2 separate regions of the Homo sapiens genome follow, and region 2 is linked to region 1. Evidence: fine-mapped expression QTL. Tissue or cell type: whole blood. Region 1 holds a variant in brackets; the other region holds the start of a gene. All regions are shown on one strand. Distances are between the middles of the regions.

What was found. PIP is the estimated chance that this variant, and not a neighbour inherited with it, causes the effect.
Region 2: ALAD starts here. The variant in region 1 is fine-mapped to the expression of ALAD in whole blood (INTERVAL, PIP 0.96).

Annotation. Positions count from the first base shown.
Region 1 is chr9:113,375,738-113,383,866 of GRCh38, reverse strand. It overlaps HDHD3 (haloacid dehalogenase like hydrolase domain containing 3), which reads left to right and starts at 6,881. Exons shown (of 3, transcript NM_001304509.2): 1 at 6,881-7,138. RefSeq lists an enhancer at 2,715-2,774 and a silencer at 6,510-7,029. The variant C/A (reference allele first, on the strand shown) is at 4,227.
Region 2 is chr9:113,396,870-113,404,869 of GRCh38, reverse strand. ALAD (aminolevulinate dehydratase) reads left to right here and starts at 3,586. Exons shown (of 12, transcript NM_000031.6): 1 at 3,586-3,658. RefSeq lists silencers at 3,275-3,634, 3,785-3,834 and an enhancer at 3,850-4,430.

The DNA of each region.
Region 1 (8,129 bases):
GGCCAACATGGTGAAACCCCGTCTCTACTAAAAACACACACACACAAAAATAGTCAGGTGTGGTGGTGTGCGCTTGTAATCCCAGCTACTCGGGAGGTTGAGGCAGGAGAATTGCTTGAACCCAGAAGGCGGAGGTTGTAGTTAGCTGAGATCGTGCCACTGCGTTCCAGCCTGGGCAACAGAGGGAGACTCGAAAAAGAAAATGCCTAATACTAAAAGGACAATGGGACAATGTCAAGTGTTGAGAATGCAGAACAACTGGAACTCTCAGATATGACTGGTACACCCTTTCAAAATGCCTGGCTCCACAAGAACAAAAAAAAAAGAAAGAAAGAAAGAAAGAAAGAAAACAAAATGTCTAGCTCCAGCCTGGGCAACATAGTGAGACCATGTCTATACTAAAAAATAAAAACAAAAATAAAATTAGCGGGGCGTGGTGACACATGTCTGTGGTTCCCGCTACTTGGGAGGCTGAGGCAGGAGGATTGCCTGAGTCCAGGAGGTGGATGCTGCAGTGAGCCATGTTTGGCCTGCACTCCGGCCTGGGCTACAGAGGGAGATCCTGTCTGCAAAAAAAAAAAAAAAAGAAAAAGAAATGTCTGGCCCTATTTACCAAAGCTGAACATATGCATACCTTATGACCCTGTGATTCCACACCTAGGTATTACCCAACAGTATTTACCCAACATTACCTATGTTCATAAGACACATGTTCAACAGCATTCATAGCAGCATTTTATAATATATGTAATAAGGCCGGGCATGGTGGCTCATGCCTGTAATCTCAGCACTTTGGGAGGCTGAGGTGGGTGGATCACCTGAGCTTAGGAGTTCAAGACCAGCCTGGCCAACATGATGAAATCCCATCTCTACTAAAATACACAAATTATCCGGGCGTGGTGGCAGGCACCTGTGATCCCAGCTACTTGAGAGGCTGAGGCAGGAGAATTGCTTGAACCTGGGAGGTGGGAGGTTGCAGTGAGCCAAGATGGCGCCACTGCACTCCAACCTAGGCAACAGAGCGAGACTCTGTCTCCAAAAAAAAGAAAAAAGAAGTGTAATAAACAAAATTGGAGATAACCCAAATGTTCATCAACAGTAAAATGTGGTCTATTTATATAATAGAATATTAAAGGTGTGAGAATGGATTAACTACAACTACACATAGCAACACAGATGTATCAAACACAATTTTGAGCAAAAGAAGCAAGGCATAAAAAATACATGCTATATTATTCTGTTTATATACAGTTCAAAAACAAATAAAGTTTAACTATGCAGTTTGAAGTCAAGATAGTTACCCTTTTGGGTAGTAAGTAACTGGAAGTGGACAGGCTGTGGAGGGTTCTGGAAATTGTTCTTTTTCTTGGTCTGGGTGCTGGTTGCATGGGTATGTTCACTTTGGGAAAATTCACATTTTGCATATTGGGATACTGAGGCTCAGAGAGAAAAACAATTGAATGGAGAGCTCACAGACAGACAGATGGCAGAGCTGGGATCAGAACCTAAGGGGTTAGGTTTTCGGTGACCCTGAAAAGTAGACAGTATCAGACATTCTTGGATTCTGTGAAATGCAGTTGAACCTCTGGTCTCCCAGTTGCCCTTCCCACCCCCACTTCTGCTTCATGCTTATAACACAAAACCAGTTTTGCAAGTGAGTCGGGCTCTCTCTTGCAGGTCCAAAGTCTGTGACTCTGCACTTTGTGTTTCTTCCCAGGCCTGAACCCAGTGAACAGACCAACTTGGAACATAGGAGAAAGTTTTGTTTTTTTGTTTTTAAGAGTTGAAAGGAAGAAAATTAGGCCAGGCACAGTGGCTCATGCCTATAATCCCGGCACTTTGGGAGGCCAAGGTGGGTGGATCAGTTGAGGTCAGGAGTTCTAGACCAGTCTGGCTACACGGCGAAACCTCGTCTCTACTAAAAATACAAAAAATTACCCGGGCACAGTGGCGCACACCTGTAATCCCAGCTACTCAGGAGGCTGAGGCAGGAGAATTGCTTGAACCTGGAAGGCAGAGGTTGCAGTGACCCCAGATCGCATCACTGCACTCCAGCCTGGGTGACAGAGTAAGACTCTGTCTCACAAAAAAAAAAAAAAAAAAAAAGGGCCAGGCTCGGTGGCTCATGCCTGTAATCCCAGCACTTCGGGAGGCTGAGGCAGGTGGATCACCTGAGGTCAGGAGTTCAAGACCAGCCTGGCCAACATGATGAAATCCTGTCTCTACTAAAATACACAAATTATCTGGGCGTGGTGGCAGGCACCTGTAATCCCAGCTACTCGGGAGGCTGAGGCAGAAGAATCGCTGGAACCCAGGAGGTGGAGGTTGCAGTGAGCTGAGATGGCACCATTGCACTCCAGCCTGGGCAACAAGAGTGAAACTCCGTCTCAAAAATGGAAGAAAGAGAGAAAGAGACAGAGAGAGAGGGAGGGAGAGAGAGAGGGAGGGAGGGAGGGAGGAAGGAAGGGAGGAAGGGAGGGAGGGAAGAAGAAAGGAAAGAAAGAAAGGGAAGGGAAGGGAGGAGGGAGGGAGAAAGGAAGGAAGGAGAGAGAGAGAGAAAGAGAGAGAGAGAAGAGGGAGGGAGGGAGAGAAAGAAAGGAGAGAGAGAAAAGAGGGAGGGAGACAGAGAGAAAGAATGAAAAAAAAAGAAAGAAAGGAGGGAAGGAGGAAGAGAAAGAAAGAAAGAGAGGAAAGAAAGAAAATTAGATACATGTTTGTGTGCTGCTAGAAAACTGTGTCATAGCATAACCAAAACTGTCACCTCAGCAATCCCTGGGGAGTGAGATGGGGTGGGGAAGCCCTTCTCTCCCTGCCCCAAGGCTACTGCCCTTGTTCAGTAAGCAGGCTGAGGCCCCACACCCTTCTTTCCGGTTCCTCACCTGGAGTACTTTCCTTGATCTTAACCTGACAACCTCCTTCTCACCATTCAGATCTTTGTTCCTTCCTTGACCACCTCATCCAAAGAGATACCCTGTCACTGTTCATAAAATGATTGTTTTTACCGCTTCCACTTCTCTCTCTGAAATCACTTTGTTTATTTATCTACTCAATGGTTGTCTGCCCCTCCCATGCCCCATGCAGGCAGGAACCACCTTGTTTCCCACTGAATCCTCAGAGAAGGACAGGGGACACAGAGCCCACAGATGTTAGGTGGTCAATGAATGAGGTTGGGTGTTGGTGGGGGGCTGGCTTTTTATTTTGTACACGTTTGTATTTTGCATTATTATTATTATTTTTTGAGACAGAGTCTTGCTCTGTCACCCAGGCTGGAGTGCAATGCTGTGATGTCAGCTCACTACAACCTCTGCCTCCCAGGTTCAAACAATTCTTGTGCCTCAGCCTCCCGAGTAGCTGGGATTACAGGCACCTGCCACCATGCCCCACTAATTTTTGTATTTTTAGTAGAGATGGGGTTTCACCATGTTGGTCAGGCTGGTCTCAAACTCCTGACCTCAAGTAATCCACTGGTCTCGGCCTCCTAAAGTGCTGCAATTACAGACGTGAGCCACCACACCCAGCCTGTTATTATTTTTTAACAAGATGGGGTCTCACTTTGTTTCCTAGGCTGGTCTCATACCCCTGAGCTCAAGGGATCCTTCCACCTTAGCCTTCCAAAGTGCTAGGATTTCAGGCATGAGCCACTATGCCTAACCCTGAATATGTCTGTATTTTTTTTAATAGGAGAAAAAGCATATACATTTATTTGATCATAGTTTTTTTGTGACATGGGAGCCTTCAGAATGAAGAGCCACAGATACAGAGGAAACTGTCCATTTTTATGCTTAGGTTCAACGAAGTGTACATGGCCGTGTATGTAGGGAAAAGAGAGATCAGACTGTTATTGTGTCCATGTAGAAAAGGGAGACATAAGAAACTCCATTTTGACCTGTACCCTGAACAATTGCTTTGCCCTGAGATGCTGTTAATCTGTAACTTTGCCCCAACCTTGAGCTCACAGAAACATGTGTTGTATGGAATCAAGGTTTAAGGGATCTAGGGCTGTGCAGGATGTGCCTTGTTAACAAAATGTTTACAGGCAGTATGCTTGGTAAAAGTCATCGCCATTCTCCATTCTCGATAAACCAGGGGCACAATACACTGCGGAAAGCCGCAGGGACCTCTGCCCTGGAAAGCCTGGTATTGTCCAAGGTTTCTCCCCATGTGACAGCCTGAGATATGGCCTCGTGGGATGGGAAAGACCTGACCGTCCCCCAGCCCGACACCCG[C/A]GAGGGGTCTGTGCTGAGGAGGATTAGTAAAAGAGGAAGGCCTCTTGAAGTTGAGATAAGAGGAAGGCCTCTGTCTCCTGCCTGCCCCTGAAACTGAACGTCTCGGTATAAAACCCGATTATACATTTGTTCAATTCTGAGACAGGAGAAAAACCGCGCCGTGGCGGGAGGCGAGACATGTTGGCAGCAATGCTGCTTTGTTATTCTTTTCTCCACTGAGATGTTTGGGTGGAGAGAAGCATAAATCTGGCCTGTGTGCACATCCAGGCATAGTACCTTCCCTTGAACTTATTTGTGACTCAGATTCCTTTGCTCACATGTTTTCTTGCTGACCTTCTCCTCACTATCAGCCCGCTCTCCTATCGCATTCTTCTTGCTGAGATAGTGAAAATAGTAATCAATAAATACTGAGGGAACTCAGAGACCAGTGCCAGAGCAGGTCCTCCGTATGCTGAGCGCCGGTCTCCTGGGCCCACTGTTCTTTCTCCATACTTTGTCTCGGTGTCTTATTTCTTTTCTCAGTCTCTCGTCCCACCTGATGAGAAATACCCACAGGTGTGGAGGGGCAGGCCACCCCTTCACATGTAGAAACAGGATTGCACAAAACGCTAATAGACTGAATAGAGAAACCCACCAAGACCCATCTGTGTAGATTCTTCTTGGCCTCTCTGTGCAGTGTTCCTTCCTCCAGGGTATGCGGCAAGACCCTCTCAAAGGGGCCTGGGTGGTGGGGGCTGTCTTATGACCTGTCTTGCCTAAGGTCATAGTGCAAGGTGATGAGACTAAAGAGGAACAGAGCACAGGCACAGAAGTATCTCAAAGCTTCCCCTCCGGTACCTCCCCAGCCTCTTTGGCCCAAACCCCCTGGCTAGCAACATTCCTATAGTTCCTCAGTGTCTCTTTGGTTCGGAAAAAAAACTTTCTTGCCTGGAGGCCTTTGCATCAGGGGGTCCCTTAACCATCACTCAGATCCTTCCCCTCTGCATGGCCAACTCTCATATGTTTGTATTTTTTAGTTTTTTGAGACTAACATGCATTACATGCATACCTTATTTATTTATTATTTTTTTATTTTTTTATTTTTTTGAGATGGAGTTTTGCTCTTGTTACCCAGGCTGGAATACAGTAGCCTGATCTTGGCTCACTGCAACCTCCACCTCCCCGGTTCAAGCGATTCTCCTTCCTCAGCCTCCCAAGTAGCTGGGAATACAGGCATGAACCACCTCGCCTAATTTTGTATTTTTAGTAGAGACGGGGTTTCACCGTGTTGGCCAGGCTAGTCTTGAACTCCTGACCTCAGGTGATCCACCCACCTCAGCCTCCCAAAGTGCTGGCATTACAGGCGTGAGCCACCGCGCCCAGCCAACATACATTACTTTTGCAAACAAAGATAAAACTCTTTTTTTATTCTTCAAAAGAATAAAAAAGCTCCCTGGTGGTCTAGTGGTTAGGATTCCAGGCTCTTACCACAGGGATCTTTTTTTTTTTTTTTTTTTTTGGGGACACAGTCTCGCTCTTTGCCCAGGCAAATATTGTGCAGTGGCAGAATCTTGGCTCACTGTAAGCTCCGCCTCCCGGGTTCATGCCATTCTCCTGCCTCAGCCTCCCGAGTAGCTGGGACTACAGGCACCTGCCACCATGCCCGGCTAATTTTTTGTATTTTTAGCAGAGACAGGGTTTCACCGTGTTAGCCAGGATGGTACCACAGGGTTCTTAAAAACAAAAAGAGGCCAGGTGCGGTGGCTCATGCCTGTAATCCCAGCACTTTGGGAGGCTGAGGTGGGCGGATCACCTGAGGTCAGGAGTTCAAGACTAGCCAGGCCAACACGGCGAAACCCTGTCTCTACTAAAAATACAAAAATTAGTTGGGTGTGGTGGCACACACCTGTAATCCCAGCTACTGGGGAGTCTGAGGCAGGAGAATCGCAAGAAACTGGGAGGCGGGGGTTGCAGTGGGCTATCGCGCCACTGCACTCCAGCCTGAGCGACAGAGGGAGACTCCGTCTCAAAAAAAAAAAAAGAGAAAGAATAAAAAAGCAGGTTACTGCAGCGGACTCTACCCTCACCAAGTTATCTTGGATTTAACAAGTTTCCAACTGAAAGCAATTCCCTCCAATACCAACTGGGGACCCTGAGACCAGAGAGGGGCTGGGCCTTGCCCAGGTTCACACAACACTAAGCAAGCCAGGCTGGGTCCCAACTCCCCTCCTCCCACTCAACCTGGGTACTTCTCGGGGGTTTCCCGATCCAAAGGAGGCCAGGAGCCGGGGTTGGGGATGGGGAGCGGAGACAGCGGTGAGGAGCGGCGGTGTGGCGGGCAGGGGGTGCGCAGACAGGGCGGAGAAGGTGCTGGTAACGGGGGCTGCGGAGCGGAAGGGTGCGGGCTGGGGAACCTCAGAGGGTGCGGGGAGGGAATAAGGGGCGTAGATGGTGCAGGGTAACGGAGGCGCGCAGTGAAGGCGGGTGACAGGGGCGCAGAGAGGTGCACAGTGAGACGAAGGAGGGAGAGGGGACGGCGAGGGCGACGGGAGATGGGGCGGGAGAGGGCGAAGGTGAGGGGGATAAGGGCGGGGACGGGGCGGGGACAGAGGCGGGTCGGGATGGTAGGGAGGGGCGGCCCGCGCGATCCCCGCCCCACCGCCCGGCGCTTGCGCACCTCCGCCCGAGCTCGCGGGCCTTGCGGCTGCGTTTTCAATCTGCTTCCTTGTGAGTCAGGTGGGTCCTGGGCCCAGGAACCGGCCCGGAGCCGTGGACGCCCTACAGCTGAGAAGGGGACCCAAGGGGTCGGCCGCGGCCAAGGCCCCTAGGACCGCCGCCCCAGCTCACGCTGCCGACGGCAGCTATAGACATTCTGCGTCAGGTCCGGGCTCCTGGACTTCGCCTTTCCCGAGCCCTGGAGGTGGGGAGAAAAGGTGAGCAGTTCGTGCCTGCAGCGCAGAGCCCCAAACCCGCGGTTTTAGAAATCGAAAAAGCCCTGCCGGGCGCGGTGGCTCACGCCTTTACCGTAATCCCAGCACTTTGGGAGGCCGGGGGGCGGGGTGGGGCGGGGGAGGATCACGAGTTCGGGAGTTCGAGACCAGCCTGGCTAACATAGTTGAAACCCCGTCTCCACTAAAAATACAAAAATTAGCCAGGTGTGGTGGCGCGCGCCTGTAGTCCCAGCTACTCTGGAGGCTAAGGAAGGAGAATCGCTTGAATCCGGGAGGCGGAAGTTGCAGTGAGCCGAGATCGCACCACTGTACACCTGGGTGACAGAGTGAGACTCTGTCTCAAAAAAAAAAAAAAAGAAAAAAAGCCGGCCGGGTATAGTGGCTCACGCCTGTAATCCTAACACTTTGGGAGGCTGAGGTCGGGAGTTCGAGACCAGCCTGGCCAACATGGAGAAACCCCGTCTCTACTAAAAATACAAAAAAAAAAGGAGCCGGGGATGGTGGCGCATGCCTGTAATCCCAGCTACTTGGGAGGCTGAGGCAGGAGAATCGCTTGAACCTGGGAGGCGGAGGTTGCAGTGAGCCGAGATCGCGCCATTGCACTTCAGCCTGGGCAACAAGAACGAAACTCCGCCTCAAAAAAAAAAAAAAAAAAAAAAAAAAGCCGTGGGTCAGGAGCCAGAGCCCTCTGCTCTAGTCTTAGCTGTGCCAATGTGACTCCCTGTGTGATTTGGGGGTAAATTACTGCCCCTCACTGGGTCTCTGTCTACCCACCTGCAAAATGAGAGGATCTTTGGATGAGTCTCCTTAATTCATTTCCTGGACAAACTTCCTCCAAGGCTCCCCCAGATTTACCAGTGACGCCCTTCCCTAAGTATCAACTTAGCCGTACTTTGAACTCTGGCCCCTCAGGTTTCAAGGGGACGGCCTTGTCTGGGATCAGCTCTGTCTGGGGAAAGAAGCTGCACCAGCC
Region 2 (8,000 bases), 21 kb before region 1:
GGCTCACCCTGCTACCTATTTTAACCTGCCACTCTCTAACAAGGCTATGTGCTCTAGTCAACGGTGAATCCCCAAAAGAACTCTTCCATATGGCTTTAGTTAATTCTGCCCCATTCATCACCAAACTTGGACTACCTAAGAAAAACATGTTTCCTGAAAATAGGGACTATTACTTTGAAACTACAGAATTTGGCCGGGCGCGGTGGCTCACACCTGTAATCCCAGCACTTTGGGAGGCCAAGGCAGGCTCATCACGAGGTCAGGAGTTCGAGACCAGCCTGGCCAATATGGGGAACCCCTTCTGTACTAAAAATACAAAAATTAGCCGGGCATGGTAGCCTGTAGTCCCAGCTACTTGGGAGGCTGAGGCAGGAGAATCGCTTGAACCCAGGAGGCAGAGGTTGCAGTGAGCTGAGACTGCGCCACTGCACCCCAGCCTGTGTGACAGAGCAAGACTCTGTCTCAAAAAAAAAAAAACTACAGAATTTAACAACTGGTAAAAATTTTTGACATCATCCACCAGTATTCCCCCCACCACACTTCTATCATTACTGCAGTGGTATCTGGACTTTTGAAGTTCCTTACTAGGCTAAGGTAATGTTTCACTTTTTTACCATGGCCCTTCATGCCCAGAGATTCTGATTTGGATTCGGGAGGTGGGAGGGTTCTCGTCCCAACCCATTCAAAGCTACTTTTGCAGCCTAACCTCCTATTTTTACTGATAGGAAATTGAGGTTCTTCAGAGAGAAGTGACTTGCTCAAGATCTTACCAAGAATTTATGAAAACTGGGATTCTGTTCCAATGACCTTTGGCCTTGCCCCGTTTTTTTTTAATAAGCTTTTTATATTTCAACAGTTTCTCTACTTATGTCCTTTTTCGATTACAGGGGCCAACCCAGAATACCACATTGCATCTAGTGAACTCACTTTTTAAGACTGAGATGAAATTCAAAGAACATAGAATTAACCATTTTTAAATGAGCAGTTCAGTGGCATTTAGAACAGTCACAATGTTGTGCAACCACTACCTCTATCTAGTTTCAAAACATTTTCCTCAGGCCCTGGCAATCAGCAGTCTGCTTTCTTTCTTGTTCCTTTTTTATGCTTTTCACAGCATTTAGCACAATGCCATATACCTACCTAGAAGACACTCAGAATAGTTTAGTTTTAACTTTTTATTGAAACGAAATATACATACTAAAAGACACAAATAAGTGTGGAGCTTAATGAATTTTCACGAATTAAACACAGCCATGTAACTCACACCCAGACCAATAAACATTAACTGCATCCAAAGAAACCTCTTTAGTCTCCCCCTGCCGCCTTTTTTTTTTTTTTTTTTTTTTTTTTTTCTGGAGACAGGGTCTTGCTCTGTCATCCAGGCTGGAGTGCAGTGGTACGATCACAGCTTACCGCAGCCTTGACCTCCCAGGCTCAAGCAATCCTCCCATGTCAGCCTCCCAAGTAGCTGGGACTACAGGTGTCCACCACCATGCCCAGCTACTTTTTGTAATTTTTGTAGAGACTGTTTCGCCATGTTGCCAAGGTTGGTCTTGAACTCCTGGGCTCAAGCGATCCACCAGCCTTGGCCTCCCAAAGTGCTAGGATTACAGGTGTGAGCCACCACACCCAGCCTAATCTCCCTTTCAATCCTCCCCATCTCCCCAGTGGAAATCACTATTCTGAGTCCTAACAACACAGCTTAATTTTGCTTGATTGTGTAGTTAATATAAATGAAATCATATTATATACTATTTTGTGTCTCACTTCTTTTACTCAACAATATGTTTAAGATTTATTCATATTATTGCATTCACAATACTGAAAGATTAAGGTAAAATGTTTCAAAAGGTGGAGGCTGGGGGGAGAGTGGGAACAGGTCTTTCAGTCAAGAAGAAGAAAAGACATGGGGGAAATAAGCTACACCAAACAGCAACATTTTAAAATTTCCCGTTCTATTTGGGTTCTTAGATGGTTCTAATTATTTTTAGTTACCAATAACCTCAGGGAAGGAATGAGTGTCAGGAAAGAAATGTCGGGCAGGGAATCTAGGAAAAAACAAATAATAATTGCCCCTATGGAGTGTGGTTATTAGCAGGCATTGCAGAGAGAGCCCAGTGTAACATGGGGCAAATTATTTAATCTAGCTGGCAATTGTTTTCCCAATCCGTAAAGTGAGAATAGTAACATCGTTGCTGTCAAGATTAGATAAATGAATGTAAAATGCATGGTACTGTCCCTGACTCTTTAATGCACAGCAAACATTATTTGCTTTCTATCCCCTTCCTTGTTGAATACAGATCAGAACTCCAGTAGCTGGAAACTAAGCAGTGTCATATTTCCCTAGCCTTACGCCGCTAGGCCCCTTAAATTTAAAATATAAAGTATACAACAGGTTTGGGGTACAGATTTTGAGAAATTTAAAAAAAAATTTTTTTTTGAGACAGAGTCTCCCTCTGTCACCCAGGCTGGAATGCAGTGGCATGATCTCAGCCCATTACAACCTCCGCCTCCCGGGTTCAAGCGATTCTCCTGCCTCAGCCTCCCGAGTAGCTGGGATTACAGGAGCCCGCCACCACGCCCGGCTAATTTTTTGTATTTTTAGTAGAGACAGGGTTTCACCATGTTGGTCAGGCTGGTCTTGAACTCCTGACCTCAAGAGATCCGCCCGCCTTGGCCTCCCAAAGTGCTGGGATTACAGGCGTGAGCCACCGAACCGGGCTGAGAAATAAAATCTGAGAATAAGTGTAATGTAACCCACTAGTGTCCTCTACATTTGAAAGTCAACTTTTCAATAATCCCTGAAGAACCACCTGAAAGGCATTGCTTCGCTAGGGCGATGATGCCCGATCGCCATTTTACTCATCCAATCCTACTGGTTTACCCAGGCCCCATAAGCCTCACCAGATCCCTCTTGCCTCTGCACATCTCCAATCTCCATAAAGACCTTTGATCGGATCTATCATTGTACCTATCATAGGTCTGATGCCCCTATCAAGACTTGGAGTTTTCCTAAACGCCCATGTCTTTCACATCACATCTCTCAACTCATAGCATTGCCGTACCCTGAGAAATAAATGAAGCTGGTACAAATTTTCTCTGAAAACTTGGAAGCCTGGCGCTGAACTCAACAACTTTAGCTTAGTCCGCAAAAATGGACTTAGCTAATACTGTGTTAGGCATAATGGTGCTGTTTTAACGGCTTTGACATCCAATTATTCTTTCACCAAGCCATTAACCAGAGCCAAGTTTGCCCTAGGCTGGGCAAAGGAATGCTGTGAAGTGAAACCTGGGCTGTAACCGCCTCCGAGGCCGGCTCACACCCAGGGACCCTCCCAAGCGGTTCCTGCGCCCCCTCGTGGCCTCCCTCCTGCAGTTCGCTGCACAAGCGCAGGGCCCGGAGCGGGGACGGGCGGGCCCTCCAGGCCCTCGACACACCCAATTGGCCAGGCCTCGTTGCGTGTGGGCGGGGCCGCGGCTGGAGCGGAGGAGCCCCCCAGAAGACCGCCTTCAGGGGGCGTGGCCTGGACTGTGGAGGGGGCGGACCGTGGGGAAGCTGCTTCCGGGTGAGCCCCCCCCGCTCTTACGCGGTCTGTGGGAGACCGGAGCGGGAGACAGCGGTGACAGGAGCAGCGGCCGGGAGCCCTTAGGGAGGCAGGTGAGCGGGGGCTGGATGCGGGGAGATAGCGGGCCTGGAGGGCGGCTCCAGGGCGAGGCGGGGACTGTGGCACCAAGAGTCCTGCGTCCCCAGATTGTGCTGTGCGCCTGAAGCCCTGGCGGTGCAGCCGTGCACGGAGTCCCGTGGAGCGTTTGTTTGGGCTGGATTATCCCGCTGCAGCCGAGGTTGGGGGCCCGGGTTCGGGGCTCCGCACCTCTTCTCTGGGGTTCACCCTCTCGGATACCGCCTGGGCAGACTCCATCGATGCAGAACCCGAGGTGCGGGTGGTGGTTGGTGGGGGGGTAGGGAGGTGAAAACAATAACAGCCGTTTTGTACTAAGCGTTGCGTGCATTGACCATTCATTTATTTTATTTATTTATTTATTTTTGAGACGGAGTTTCGCTCTTGTTGCCCAGGCTGGAGTGCAATGGCGCGATCTCAGCTCACTGCAACCTCCGCCTCCCGGGTTCAAGCGATTCTCCTGCCTCAGCCTGCCAACTAGCTGGGATTACAGGCGTGTGCCACCACGCCTGCTAATTTTTGTATTTTTAGTAGAGATGGGGTTTCTCCCTGTTGGTCAGGCTAGTCTCGAACTCCCGAGCTCAGGTGATTCGCCCACCTCGGCCTCCCAAAGTGCTGGGATTACAGGCGTGAGCCACCACGCCCGGCCTGACCCATTCATTTCTTACAACAACCCATTGAGGTCGGTTCTAGTCCCCATTTACTAAACGAAGAAACTGAGGTCACACAACTAGAAAGCTACAGAACTAGGATTTGTACCCACATCTATCAGACTCCAGAGCCCACATACTTAACCATCCTGCTACCAACAGCAGCCAGGCCCAGAGTCTGGCTCACCCAAAGCTCTCCACAAGCCCAACCTGCTGGGAAACAGATTTGATATCTATCCTTAAAGTATGGAGGTGTCATGGTGGGCACTGAGGACTGGGCTGCTGGAGACCTTCCCCCAGATCTGCCGCTGACCCACTGCGTGATCCTGGGCCTGTGTCTACCCCTCTCTGAGCCCAGTTTCACCCTTGTTTCAGTGATACAATCAGCAAACTTTAAGAAGACTCTTAGCCAAGATATTCTAGGATTCTGGGAATGGCAGCTTCTCCTACGTCTAAATGGCTAACCCCAGAGGCGATCAGGCTCTTCAAAGCCCCAGGGCAAGGCTGGGGTCTCATTCTTCTCTTTAATCCCTGTGTCTAGCACTTCAGCAGGCCCATAGTAGATATTCAAGAAATGTGGGTTGGCTGAATAAACACTTCATCTCTTTTCAGAACTGCATGACAGCTGCTCTCCTGGGCCTTTGTGGGGCTTTGGATTTCTCAGTTCTGGCCACCTTCTATCTAGCTGGCTCTCCTGACTGCCTCCTCCCTGGCCAGTGGCAGAGCCTGCCAGGGCTGGCAGCAGGTCCTAAGCCTCTGTGCGAAGACCCACAGCCTCTGGAATCCTCAGCATAGTACAACTTGCAGGGGTGGGGGGTGGCACATGAAGCTCATAGCCCCTCCTGGTAGCAGTGCTCAGGGCCCAACTTCAGTTACTCCCAGTTTGGGGATGTTGCCTTCCATGGGAGGAGATACTTTCATATTAAATCTGAAACACTTCTTATCCTTCACTGTCCCCTCTTCCATGAAACCACCCTTGACTCAGAGACACAGTCCCTCTGACAGCACCTGGTCCACCCCTCTACTCTGGCAGCCCGGTGGTGATTATTTTGTTTTTCCTCCACCACATAACCTGCTGGAAGGCAGGGACTCCACTTCAGAAATCTTGGAAAACCCTGTGGCCCACAAGGGTTTGAGCTCATATTCCCATCTGGTGAGGTGCAGAAGGCACAGAGCTGTGCCAGGACATCTCGTTCCAACCCAGCCCCACTCCTAATAGTAATAAAAGTAGCTACATGTTTACTGTGCAGCTACTTGGTGCCAGACACCTACCTTATCCCTATCAATAATCTCCACAGCCTTGCAAGTTAGAGATATCATGCCTATTTTGTAGATTATGAAATGAACACTGAAAGGTCAATTACTTTGCCCAAAATTACACAGCAGAGCATAGACCAAACCTGGGACTGTCTGACCCTGAAACATGGATCTTTCTGCACCGCCCTATACTCTGCGTCCCAGCAAAGCTAACCTGTCTGATGTGGTTGGGCAGAGGTGCTGGACCTCCTGGCGGCTCGCTCCTGTCTTCAGTGTGGTAATGTCACAGGCATTTAAATTGTGGTTTGCAAGCTCGCTTGATTTGGGAGAAGTGCCCTCCCAGTCTGTGAAATTCTCCCAAACTCTAAGGGCCTTTTTGCAAAGCAAAACCCACCCTGCATTTGGCTCTGCCAATATGTGATTCAGGGGGTGTTTTCCCACTCACAGAATGGAGTGGGAAACTCCACTTATTAAGTACCTCTTACAATGGAATGACTCTATGGTGTAGGTATCAGGGCACTGAAATAGAAGCCAGGAGCTGCAGGGTCAGTTTATAGCTCTGTATGTCACTCACTGTGATCTCCAAAAGTCCCGTTGCCTCTTTATACCCCATTTTCCACATTAAAGTGTAAGGGATTAAACAGGATTGGCAATTTTCAAGCTTTTAATATTTTCAGCACTGACAGCCGTTTCTCAAATCAAATCTGTCTCTGAATCTTAAAATTCAAAAACAGATCAAAGTGGACTGCTGTAGTGAGACTGTTCCCTTTACTCTAACCCTGCCCCGGTCTCAGGCTCCTAGGCAGTCCTGCCCCAGGGTTTCTGCTAAGCAGGAGCCAGTTGTTCCCTCAGCCTCCTAAAAGCGATGGGGAGTTGAGGCCAGTGGAATGCAGCTTTGGATTCAGAAGCCAGAAAACAACAGAGATTGTTTGTGGGAAGTGAGTCAGAGAGATTAGACCTCTCTTCAACATCTGACTAGACTCTAGAATGGCATTAAGCAAGTCACTGAACCGCTCAGAGCCTCTGTTTCCTTATCACTAAAAGTTAGGACAATTCTTGCAATGAAATGAGATACTACTACCAAGTACTTCAGTGCTGTGCCCAGCACAGAACGAATACACTCAGTATGTTTTTCTTTTGTTTCTTCTGTCTCTCCAGCACCCAAAGCAGAAACAGTATGGGCAGAGAGACGCCTACTGAATCAGGTGTTTATCAGTATTATGAAATACAGTATATAAAACCCAGCATTTGGAGTCCAGAACAAATTCAAATTCTGGCTCAGTCACTAAGTAGCTATGTGGTCTTGGGCAACTGGCTTACATTTTGGTAATTCTCTCAATATGCAAAAATATTCTCTCGGCCAGGTGCGGTGGCTCACGCCTGTAATCCCAGCACTTTGGGAGGCAGAGGCGGGCGGATCACTTGAAGTCAGGAGTTTGAGACCAGCCTGGCCAACATGGCGAAACCCTGTCTCTACTAAAAATACAAAAATTAGCCAAGCATGGTCATGCATGCCTGTAGTCCCATCTATTTGGGAGGCTGAGGCAGGAGAATCACTTGAACCCAGGAGGTGGAGGTTGCAGTGAGCCGAGATCGAACCACTGCACTCCAGCTTGGGTGACAGAGCCAGACTCTGTCTCAAAAAAAAAAAAAAAAAAAAAAGAAAAGGAAAAAAAACTCCTGGCAGACATGAGAGCAAAATCGAGTACGAAATGGGCAGCTGGGACCTCATATCTACTGAATAATTGTCTGTTTGGAGGTTGAGACATGACTGGGGAGGCCTGGCCTGCCCCTGTGTTAGGTGATGGGGCTGGCCCACCCAGGGGTGTGGCAGCAGGGCTGGCCCCTGTGTGACTTGTGATAACCCCACCCTACCAAGGAGGAAGACTGGATAAAATGGGCCCCTGAGATGGCTGAAGGCAGCTAAAGGGGCCTAAGAGACTATGGGGAGAAGGGCAGCCAGTTCCTAGGCAGCCCTGCCCCACTGTTTCTGATAAGCAGGAGGCAGTTGTTCCCTCAGCCTCCTGAAAGCAATGAGGAGTTGAGGCCACGGGAATGCAGCTTTGGATTCCAGAAGCCAAGGACCTGTTACAAAGGTGGTTTTCTGGGAAGCAAATTAGAGGGATTAGACCTGGCTTCGACATCTGACTTGACTCCAACCTACCAAAGGATCTCCCAGTTCACCTGGGAGTTAACACACCAGGGTTCTAGTCCTTTTGCTCGCTGTGTGGCTTTGGGTAAGTCCTTGCCCCTCTCTGGACCTTGAGGTCCCATTCATACAAAAAGCAGTTGGACTCAGGCCTGCCAGCCCCCATTTTTGTGGCTCTTCCCCGCCCCTCCCCATCCTTTGGCTATGGGATAGTCTCCCAGGCACCTCCAAAAGGAAGTGTCTAAAACAGAGCTCTCCACCTCC